Homo sapiens: one gene and its partners. The protein of the gene in region 1 interacts with the protein of each later gene in a pairwise test. Each region holds a gene or a part of one and is shown on either strand. Other genes may lie near its edges.

Region 1 (3,500 bases):
ATCTCTCCCCTTGTTCAACAACCAGCCTTTCTGTGTATACTTTTCCCCTTTACGATCTATTCAACTCACTGTGACGAGAGCTGTTTTAAAGAGACCGACAATCCAAGCTTTACAAAATTTTTTTAATGCATCCAGACTGTAGATTCTTATTTTCTACCAACCAGGACTCCTTGGGAAAATGACTGACTCCAGGCGTAAAGCAGGAAGTAGTACACAAAGATGGGCCTAGACCATCTCATTATGACAGAAAGAGGGAAACTTTCAAAGCTGCCCAGGCACCATCACCTATGAAGTATTCTTGCTAAAAATGTTTAACCTGCATCTCAATCACACCTCTCCAGACCTAACTTCCAGTATATAGGAAGTTCAGGGGATAAGATACAAGTTCAATGATACTAAGAAGAAACAGATAAATACAGAATGTGAGTATTAAAAAACTAAGAAAAATAAGCCAGGAGTGGTGGCTCACGCCTGTAATCCTAGCTACTTGGGAGGCTGAGGCAGTAGGATAGCTTGAACCTGGGACGCAGAGGCTGCAATGAGCTGAGATGGTGCCACTGCACTCCAGCCTGGGCGACAGAGCAAGAGTCCGTCTCAAACAAACAAAAAAACCCAAACCTAAGCAAAATAAATGTCATGAAGGAACTGCTCCACACTAAAAGCCTGACTACATTAGGTTTTACCTAAAAACCCCTTGTACTACATGACTGGATTAGATCCCGGTTAAGAAAAAACCCAGCTATAAAGACATCCATGGAGTAACTGGGGAAACATGAATATGGCCTGGGCATTTAGTAATTAGATGGAATTACTATTAATGTTCTTAGGTGAAAAAACAGAACTGTGGTTATCCTCATTCTTGGAGACACATGCTGAAGTATTTAGGGGCAAAGTATCATAATTTCTACAACTTACTTTCAAATGCTACAACAAAATAAATGTACAGTGTGCTTGTATAAATACATACATACAAAGAGAGAAAAGGCAAAATGCTATCTGTTAAAGCCAGAGGAGGGTATACAGGTGTTCATTAACTATTCTTTCAACTTTTGTTTGAAGAAACCAATTGCAAAAATACCTATTTGAGACAACTAGGGCAGGGTGCAGTGGCTCACGTCTGTAATCTCAGCACTTTGGGAGGCTGAGGTGGGAGGACCGCTTGAACCCAGGAGTTCAAGACCAGCCTGGGTAACATAGCAAGACTCCATTTCTACAACAAACAAACAACTGAAAAATTGGAATACAACCTAGATATTACATCATAGTATGGAATTATTGCTAATTTTGCTAGCTATGTTATCATGGTTTCTTTTAAAATACTACAGATACATACTGAAGCAGTTGCAGATGGAATGATAGATGTCTAGACTTGCCTTACAACAATGCAGCAGGAGCGGGTGATGTGAAACAAGACTGGCAAAATAAAAACTACAGAAGCTGGAGGAGTGGGAGGTGCAATTCAGAGTTCTCCAATGCTTCATATATAAATTTCAAATTTTCCATAATAAAAAGTCAAAAGACCTAAATAACAAAACCTGAAAAGTCTCCAGTGACTTCTCACTACTCTTCCATTCTTGCTCTGGCCTAATGGTCAGTATATCTGGTCCTTCTCTGCCTTATCTCAAGCCACTCTCCTCCCGTTACCTCTCTATATTAGCTTCTCTACTCTGGAAAACTTTCTCCTGCCCCCAGGCCTTCAGAAACACCCTTTTCTGTTAGATAGATAGGCATTTTCTCGACGGGCACGGTGGCTCAAGACTGTAATCCAAGCACTTTGGAAGGCCGAGGTGGGTGGGTCACCTGAGGTCAGGAGTTCGAGACCAGTCTGCCCAACATGGTGAAACTCTGTCTCTACTAAAATTACAAAAATTAGCCAGGCATGGTGGTGTGCACCTGTGATCCCAGCTACTCAGGAGGCTGAGGCAGGAGAATCGCTTGAACCCGGGAGGTGGAAGTTGCAGTAAGCCGAGATTGTGCCACTACACTCCAGCCTGGGTGACAGAGTGAAAGAAACTCCGTCTCAAAAAAAAAAAAAGAAAGAAAGAAAGGCATTTTCTTCTGCTCACCATCTCTCTGCCTTATTCATTAGGGCTCAGTTCTACAGCATGTCCTTAGGGAAGCTGTTGCCAGCTCTCTAGACTAGTTGTGCTGTGTGCATTTTCTTGTCACAATAGCACGGTTTATTCAATACTCATCTTCTACGCTAGACTGAGTTTCAGGGGGGCAAGGACCATATTTGTCTTTTTTTTGAGACAGAGTCTCTTTCTGTCGCCCAGGCTGGAGTATAGTGGAGTGATCTCTGCTCACTGCAACCCCTGCCTCCTGGGTTCCGGTTTAAGCGATTCTCCTGCCTCAGCCTCCCTAGTAGCTGGGACCACAGGCGTGTGCCATCATGCCTGGCTAATTTTTTTTTACTTTTGTATTTTTAGTAGAGATGGGGTTTCATCACGTTGGCCAGGCTGGTCTTGAACTCCTGACCTCAGGTGATCCACTCGCCTCAGCCTCCCAAAGTGCTGGGATTACAGGTGTAAGCCACCGCGTCTGGCCATTTGTCTTCTTTACAAAGCCTTTCCAATGCTTAGCCCAGTGCCTGGCCTGTTCAGGTGCTAAGTAAGACAAAATTGCCATGTGTGCCATCAACCAAGGTAGTAGGATCTAGGGGTCCCAAGAAGAAATGTGAAAGGTGGCCTCTGATTTCCATTTTTTTTTTTTTTTTTGAGACGGTGTTTTGCTCTTGTTGCCCAGGCTAGAGTGCAACGGTGCGCTTGGCTCACCACAACCTCCGCCTCCCAGGTTCAAGCAATTCTCCTGCCTCAGCCTCCCGAGTAGCTGGGATTACAGGCATGCACCACCAACGCCTAGCTAATTTTTTTGTATTTTTTCAGTAGAGACGGGGTTTCTCCATATTGAGGCTGGTCTCGAACTCCTGACCTCAGGTGATCTGCCCGCCTTGGCCTCCCAAAGTGCTGGGATTACAGGCGTGAGCCACTGTGCCCGGCCTCTGATTTCCCTTTTTGAGATGGAGTCTCCCTGTCGCCCAGGCTGGAGTGGAATAGTGCGATCTCGGCTCACTGCAACCTCTGCCTCCTGGGTTCAAGCGATTCCCATGCCTCAGCCTCCTGGGTAGCTGGGACTACAGGTACGTGCGCCACCACACCATTTTTTTTTTTGAGATGGAGTTTCGCTCTTGTTGCCCAGGCTGGAGTGCAATGGCACAATCTCGGCTCACTGCAACCTCTGCCCCTACTGGGTTCAAGCAATTTTCAAGCAATTTTTCTGCCTCCGCCTCCCGAGTCACTGGGATTATAGGCACCCACCACGCCCAACTAAATTTTGTTATTTTTAGTAGAGACAAGATTTCGCCATGTTGGCCAGGCTGGTCTCGACTCCTGACATCAGGTGATCCACCCACCTCGGCCTCCCAAAGTGCTGGGATTACAGACATGCGCCACAGCGCCCAGCATTTTTGTATTTTTAGTACAGATGGGGTTTCACCATAT
Region 2 (3,500 bases), on another chromosome or scaffold:
AGTGCTTTGCTTTCTTTCTTTTTTTTTTTTGAAGACAGAGTCTTACTCTGTTGCCCAGGCTGGAGTGCAGTGGCGCGATCTTGGCTCACTGCAGCCTCTGCCTCCCGGATTCAAGTGATCCTCGTGCCTCAGCCTTCCAAGTAGCTGGGATTACAGGTGCGTGCTATCATGCCCGGCTAATGCATTTGAGTTTTGACTCTTCATGTCCTGGTATTCAAATTTGCCAGGCAATGCATTTTAAAGTAAGGATTTGAATTAAATACTGAAGACCCTCTGAAGTTACATTAAAAATGTTAGCCTTCAGATCAGACAGTATTCTTAGGTATGTTGCTTCTAACTGTTTGGAATCAAAATATACCCCTCCACCCAAAATCTGACTCCTTTCAGATATCTCAGGATAACCTGACAATTCAGTTTTTGTTTTCCACTAAAAAGCTCAATGCTGCTGTGTGTTCTTTAGGTTCATATGGAGTCTTGAGTCAAATCAAACACTCCCCCAAAACATGCAATAAAAGCAGGTTTTCCTGTTGGACACTTCTATCAAAAGTTATATAATGTCTATACCAGTGTTGTCCAATAGAAGGTTCTGTGATAATGAAAATGTTGTATATCTGCATTATCCAATATGGTAGCTACTAGCTACATGTGCCTAGTAGAAGCGATGAACTGAATTTTATTTCATTTTAATTAACTTACATTTAACCACACATGGCTACAGTCTACCATATCTGACAGCACAGGTCTACACTGAGGTTCAGGTGCTCAGAGACAGTGAACAAAAGCAAGATTATTTGTCACTCTTCTTGTTGACACGCTCTCAGCAAGCTAGTTGGACCATGTGAGGCCAGGAAGGTGGGCAAACAAGGATAGCATCACCAAGCATTTCTTTGTGAACTAATTCCGCCACGGCCAAGACAATGTCCCACCATCCTTTGTGGAATAAGCATCTAAGAAGAAAATTTGCTTTCATTTGCAAAGATGCTGAAGAGAAAATGTTTTATCCACTGGCTGAATGAAAAGACTCTGGCTTGTAAATAACAAGGGTTTCATTTAGCAATTCTTTCAATTCTTCATCACATAAATATTAAGGGCCAACTGTGTGCCAGGCAAATTCTATGTACTGAGAATACAGCAGCAAACAAGGTAGACAAAATACTGGGTGTCATGGAGCTCACATTCTAGTAGACGAGTCAAAATTACTTCAGATAATAATAAATGCTATGAAGGAAACAAAATAGGGTAGTATAAAGGCTCTGTAACTCCAAAGTAATGTTTATACTAAACCAAGAAGATTAAAAAAAAAATCAGGAATTTGCAAGCATGAAACTTCTATCTTTAAAAATATTCACTGGAGGGAATGTATAGGGGTCAAGGTAGAATAAATGTGGTTTTGGGGAAAGAATATTTGTTAAGCTGGGAAGAGCTAAGTCTGCCTGGGGTGATCCTTAGACTCAAATAAGGTATTTCAATGAGCAAGGCAGGAGGTAGAAACAAGAATAGATTAAAATTACACAACAGACTTCTACTTGCAGAGGTTCCAGATAGTTTGAATTAGGTTTGCATTTACATTCACACTTGGGTGGCAGGAGTATGAAATGTGTGAATCAAAGACCTCGAGTCACAGAAATAAATATGTCACCTAATAAATCACTTATTTAGCAGGGGGATAAAATGTAATAAATAATAGGAAATCCCGGAGTTGTATTTAGCAGACTAAATATTGTGATCAATCTGTGCATTTATTTTATATGCTGCTTTAATGACTATGATCTGGTTCTTTGTTTTGTTTTATTTTGTTTTGTTTTGAGATGGAGTCTCGCTCCGTTGCCCAGGCTGGAGTGCAGTGGCGCGATCTTACCATAACCTCTGCCTACCGGGTTCAGGTGATTCTCCTGAATCAGCCTCCTGAGTAGCTGGGATTACAGGTATGCGCCACCATGCCCAGCTAATATTTTTGTAATTCTATGCATTCATTTTAAAGTTATTGCTGGCAAAAACAGTATTTCAAAATGCATCTGGTGTGCACGTGTTTATAAACCATACTTCATTATCACTGCAACTGTAAAACTGTAAACTGTTATATTTCAAAATTCTTCCAGATTTCTAGTCAGAAGAGATATCAATCAATCTCATAAATAAACCAGACGTATATTTCCAATGACCTCAAAAGATGCCCAAACTCCATAGGTACACAGTAAACCTTATCACAACACTATTCATTGAGATAGAGCTGAACTGTCCATTTTGGGGCCCTCTCTAAGGGAGCTACAATTATATTACCATTTTGACTGTTTAAATGCACAAAAGGGTCAGGAATGGGCACTAATTTACAACTAGATTATTGGTAAAAACGGAATTTTACGTTATGAACATTTTTCTCTGTATAACTTGCTATCTGTATAACCTGCTTTCTGTATAACTTGCTATCACTAATTTCAGAACCAGGGAGAGAATAAAGAGTTGTTTCTCCACAACAATAAAGTCAGTCTACACCAGTAGACAGAGATAAGAATACAGGCAGAATGTAACACAAGGTACTTTGATGACAATATTCCTCAGAACTCCTTGTTCTTTGCTTCTCCTTTATTCACTTTTTTGAGGGGAGGAAGGACAGTTCCATTAACTTTTTTTAAAATCACTTAAAAAAGTTGATACATAACAGATGTACTTATTCACTTTTACTTGCTGTTCTTGGAATTTTCCACGGACATTAAATATTATAACTTTTAGTACCAAACTGAAGTTTGCATTTACAATTGTGAAGCTGGTACTCCCCACCAAAATCAGGCCATACTTGTTGGCTTGCACTGAAAATCCACAAGCAGTTCCCATAAATCTTTTGATGATGATATTTTTCAATGGTTTCCCATACCAAGTAGCTGCTGCTTGGGGCGCAGTATGGTTATTAAACAGTCTTATCTGTGATACACTTTAAAACAATACTGGGCTAAACAAAGGGAAGGGAAATCAAAAGACTTAAGTAGCTTCTTGGCTCCATCTTCCTTTACTACTCGCTGCACAAACACGTAGGAGGTGACAAGACAAAGATGAGGCGAGGCAAGCTCCAGGCTCCCTTGAGAGAAAAAAAGCCTATCAGCATTTCTATCAGTAAGCACACCACTTCCTACCTCAAAATCCATAGGATGAAACATATTCTTGATGATGACAACTCGCTCATGGCGCATCCGGGATGGTCCGGCTCGCCTCTCAGGTCTCCAATCCAACTGCCTGAGGCAATGAAGCAGTAACAACAAACTGTAAATTTTGCTTCAGACTTGTTGGAGAGAGAAAAGAATGAGTTGTTCATACAATACTTTACTGAGTATTTAATAAAGATAATTACTGGATTTTACAACAACAAACTGTATTTCAGTCATAGTTCCAGTCAGAAAACTTTCTGAAATAAAAATAATGGGCAGGGGGCCGTGTGCGGTGGCTCATACCTATAATCCCAGCACTTTGGGAGGCCGAGGCGGGCGGATCACTTGAGGCCAGGAGTT
Region 3 (3,500 bases), on another chromosome or scaffold:
GCCCCAGTGGGGGCTTGAGCAAGAGCCGGGAGCTCAACAGTGGCAACACCTCTGATTCAGGGAACTCCTTCACCACCTCCTCACCCCAGAACAAGGGGGCCATGTTGGAGAATCTCTCCCCCACCAGCAGGGGCAGAGAGTCAAGGTCAGTGCACCACACAGGGTCGGGGGTAGACGGTCTCCCACCTTAGCTCCACCTTCTCATGCTCTCATCCCAGCCTCCCCCACTCCACCCCCAAGATTATTTTATTTGTAAGAGAGATGAAACTCAACTCAGACTGGCTTGTTTTAAAACACTAGTGGCACTAGCTTCAGGTACAGCTGGATTCAGGGGTTCAAAAATATGTTGCTGGAAATCCGTCTTTCTCATTACATCTCTTATTCTGCTTCCTCATCCTACTGGCCTTATTCTCAAGCAGATCCTCCCAAAGCATTGTCAAATATGCCAAGCAGCTAACATTCTATTGGTTTAGCCAGCCAACAGGAAAACAATGCTTCTTTCTCAAAGATTTCAGCCAAACACCAAGGCAGGTGCTTATTGGTTCTGTTTGGCCCAGCTTAGGTCATCTGCCCATCACTGTCCCAGGGGATGCTATGCTGTTGGCCAGAATGTGTCAGATGCCATCACTAGGGCTAATGAGTCGAACCTTCCCACACTCCTCTACAGGAAAAGCCAGGTTATTGGTATCAGGAGAGATGGAGGCTAGGCAGGCAAAAAAACAGATGACAATTTTACCAGTAATCTTAGAAGGAAGTCGAACATTGACCAGGCGTGGTGGCTCACACCTGTAATCCCAGCACTTTGGGAGGCCGAGGCGGGTGGATCACCTGAGGTCAGGAGTTCGAGACCGGCGTGACCAACATGGAGAAACCCTGTCTCTACTAGAAATACAAAATTAGCCGGGTGTGGTGGTACATGCCTGTAATCCCAGCTACTCGGGAGGCTGAGGCAGGAAAATTGCTTGAACCCTGGAGGCGGAGGTGGCAGTGAGCTGAGATTGTACCATTGCACTCCAGCCTGGGCAACAAGAGTGAAACTCCATCTCAAAAGAAAAAAAAAATGAAAGAAAGTCTAACATTAAATTAATTGTAAGTCATTTAAGAACATATCACAGGCCAGGTGCGGTGGCTCACGCCTGTAATCCCAGCACTTTGGGAGGCCGAGGCGGGTGGATCACGAGGTCAGGAGATCGAGACCATCCTGGCTAACACAGTGAAACCCCGTCTCTACTAAAAATACAAAAATTTAGCCAGGCATAGTGGCGGGCGCCTGTAGTCCCAGCTACTTGGGAGGCTGAGGCAGGAGAATGGCATAAACCTGGGAGGTGGAGCTTGCAGTGAGCCGAGATTGCGCCAGTGCACTCCAGCCTGGGTGACAGAGCCAGACTCCATCTCAAAAAAAAAAAAGAACATATCACAGTATTTACCCAAATGAATTGAAAACTTATCTCTACATAAAAACCTGCACTTGGATGTTACAACAGCTTTATTTGTAATTGCTAAAACTTGGAAGCAACCAGAATATCCTTCAGTACGTGAATGAATACATAAATTATGATACGTCCAGACAATGGAATGCTATTCAGTGCTCGGAAGGTATGAGGTACCACGCTATGAAAAGACATGGAGGAAATGTAAATGCATATTACTAAGTGAAAGAAGCCAATGTGAAAAGGTCACACACTGCATGGCTCCAACTGTATGACATTCTGGAAAAGGCAAAACTATGGAGAAAGTACAAAGATAAGTGGTTGCCAGAGGGTGAGGGGACAGAGGGATGAATAGGCAGAGCACAGAGGATTTTTAGGGCAATGGAACTACTCTGTGTGACACTACAATGGTGGATAACTGTCATTATACATTTGTCCAAATCCATAGAATGTATAACACCAAGAGGGTACTCTGATGTAAACTATAGACTCTGGGTGATAATGATGTGTCAATGGAGGTTCATCGATTGTAGCAAATGGACCACGTTGGTGGAGGATGCTGATAGTGGGGAATAAGGCTGTGCGTGTGTAGCAGCAAGAAGTATATGGGAGCTCCCTGTGCTTTCCATTCAATCATGCTATGAAACTAAAACTGCTCTAAAAAATAAAGTTTATTAATTATAGATACAGATATACCATAGTATAATTTATCAACATATCAGAGAACATTGAGATTTCTCCATTTTTTTACCCATCTTAACACACTCACTAGATGCAGTTTTCCTGCAGAAAACTCTTCCACACAGATGCATATGAGCCAGTTGTAATTCTACTTCGTCATCCGCTTAACTCTCTCACTCAAGAAATCACAACAAAATGCTAATCACTGAGGTTACTGTCATCATAATAGCTACTAAAATTTACTGATCACTTAGTCTGTACCATTCATTCTGTTGTTTATTCCTCAACTTGTTTATCAGGCAAGTCCTCTCTGCCAGACACTCAGCCTGGTGCTGGGGATTTAAAAATGGAACAGTCCTTTTTCTCAGGAGCTTATAATTAATGAGGCAGATGCACAGTTGCGGGATGGGTGGAAAAGCTTTGCTGGTGCCCTCTGTCATGCTAACAGTGAGGTTTTTCTACTTCTGAGGGTGGGAGTTTGCCTTTGTTCCATATAGCCAAAATTTTCAAAAGATGACTAACGCCTTAGCACTGAAGCAGCTAACAGCTTCTTCAAAGACAGAGCACTCTTTGTCCCTAACACATACCCCATTTCAGTCCTGGACAAACAGCTTGACATCCACATGCAGAACTGCCTTCCCATTTGCCTGCCCCAGGTCATCCCTGGCCTCAGCTCACACCCAAGCTTGACTGAGAACCTGAGCTGGGCCAGAGCCAATGTCAGTGTCTCCAAGAACAGGCAGTGAAGTTCCCAGAAGGGAGGAGGAGGACACATGTTTACTGATATACAGCAGTGCTATTATGCAGGAAAAATTGAAATAGCAATAACAACAACAATAATAACGGCAGTTCATATTCGTTGAGCCCAAATCACATGCTAGGTACACTGCCAAATGCTTTCCAGAAATAATCTTCCCGAGCTCCTCAAAACCTTTATAGGACAGTACTATTTGTAACCCTTTTTTACCTGATGGGGAAACTGAGGCTCAGAGTGGTTGAGAAACTCAGTTAATAAGTGGCAGCACCAGAATTCAAATACAAATATGTCCCCCAAACAGGAACTAAAGCCTGAGAGACATCTAGCAGTTACCTGTTTAATTTGATCTCCATGGACAGCCAAATTAAGTAATTTAGACCCAGCCTTTCACTTTGAAATATAAATGATGGTTGAGTCCATGACTGTTTATGTCATGCCACTTATGAGCAGAGAGGGCTCAATAAATATGGGCTGAGTGGAAGAGACATCAGCTCTAAATCAAAGGAACCATAGACACTGAAGGTAGGGAGCTGGTGAGGTGGGAGGGGTGGGGACTCTGGAGCTGCACAGATCAAGGTTTGGGGCTCTGGGTGGTTTTGAGGAAATAACAAACCCTTCTGAGACTTCTCTGT

What was found.
Region 2: the proteins of SRSF4 (region 1) and HTATSF1 interact in a two-hybrid assay, tested with the Homo sapiens proteins (one large-scale study listed by BioGRID and IntAct).
Region 3: the proteins of SRSF4 (region 1) and SRRM4 interact in a two-hybrid assay, tested with the Homo sapiens proteins (one large-scale study listed by BioGRID).

Annotation. Positions count from the first base shown.
Region 1 is NC_000001.11:29,150,901-29,154,400, forward strand, and holds part of SRSF4 (serine/arginine-rich splicing factor 4), read right to left. Parts: intron 1-3,500. UniProt on the Homo sapiens protein: Plays a role in alternative splice site selection during pre-mRNA splicing. Represses the splicing of MAPT/Tau exon 10.
Region 2 is NC_000023.11:136,504,092-136,507,591, reverse strand, and holds part of HTATSF1 (17S U2 SnRNP complex component HTATSF1), read right to left. Parts: intron 3,229-3,500; coding exon 3,129-3,228; intron 1-3,128. UniProt on the Homo sapiens protein: Component of the 17S U2 SnRNP complex of the spliceosome, a large ribonucleoprotein complex that removes introns from transcribed pre-mRNAs.
Region 3 is NC_000012.12:119,145,541-119,149,040, forward strand, and holds part of SRRM4 (serine/arginine repetitive matrix protein 4), read left to right. Parts: coding exon 1-145; intron 146-3,500. UniProt on the Homo sapiens protein: Splicing factor specifically required for neural cell differentiation.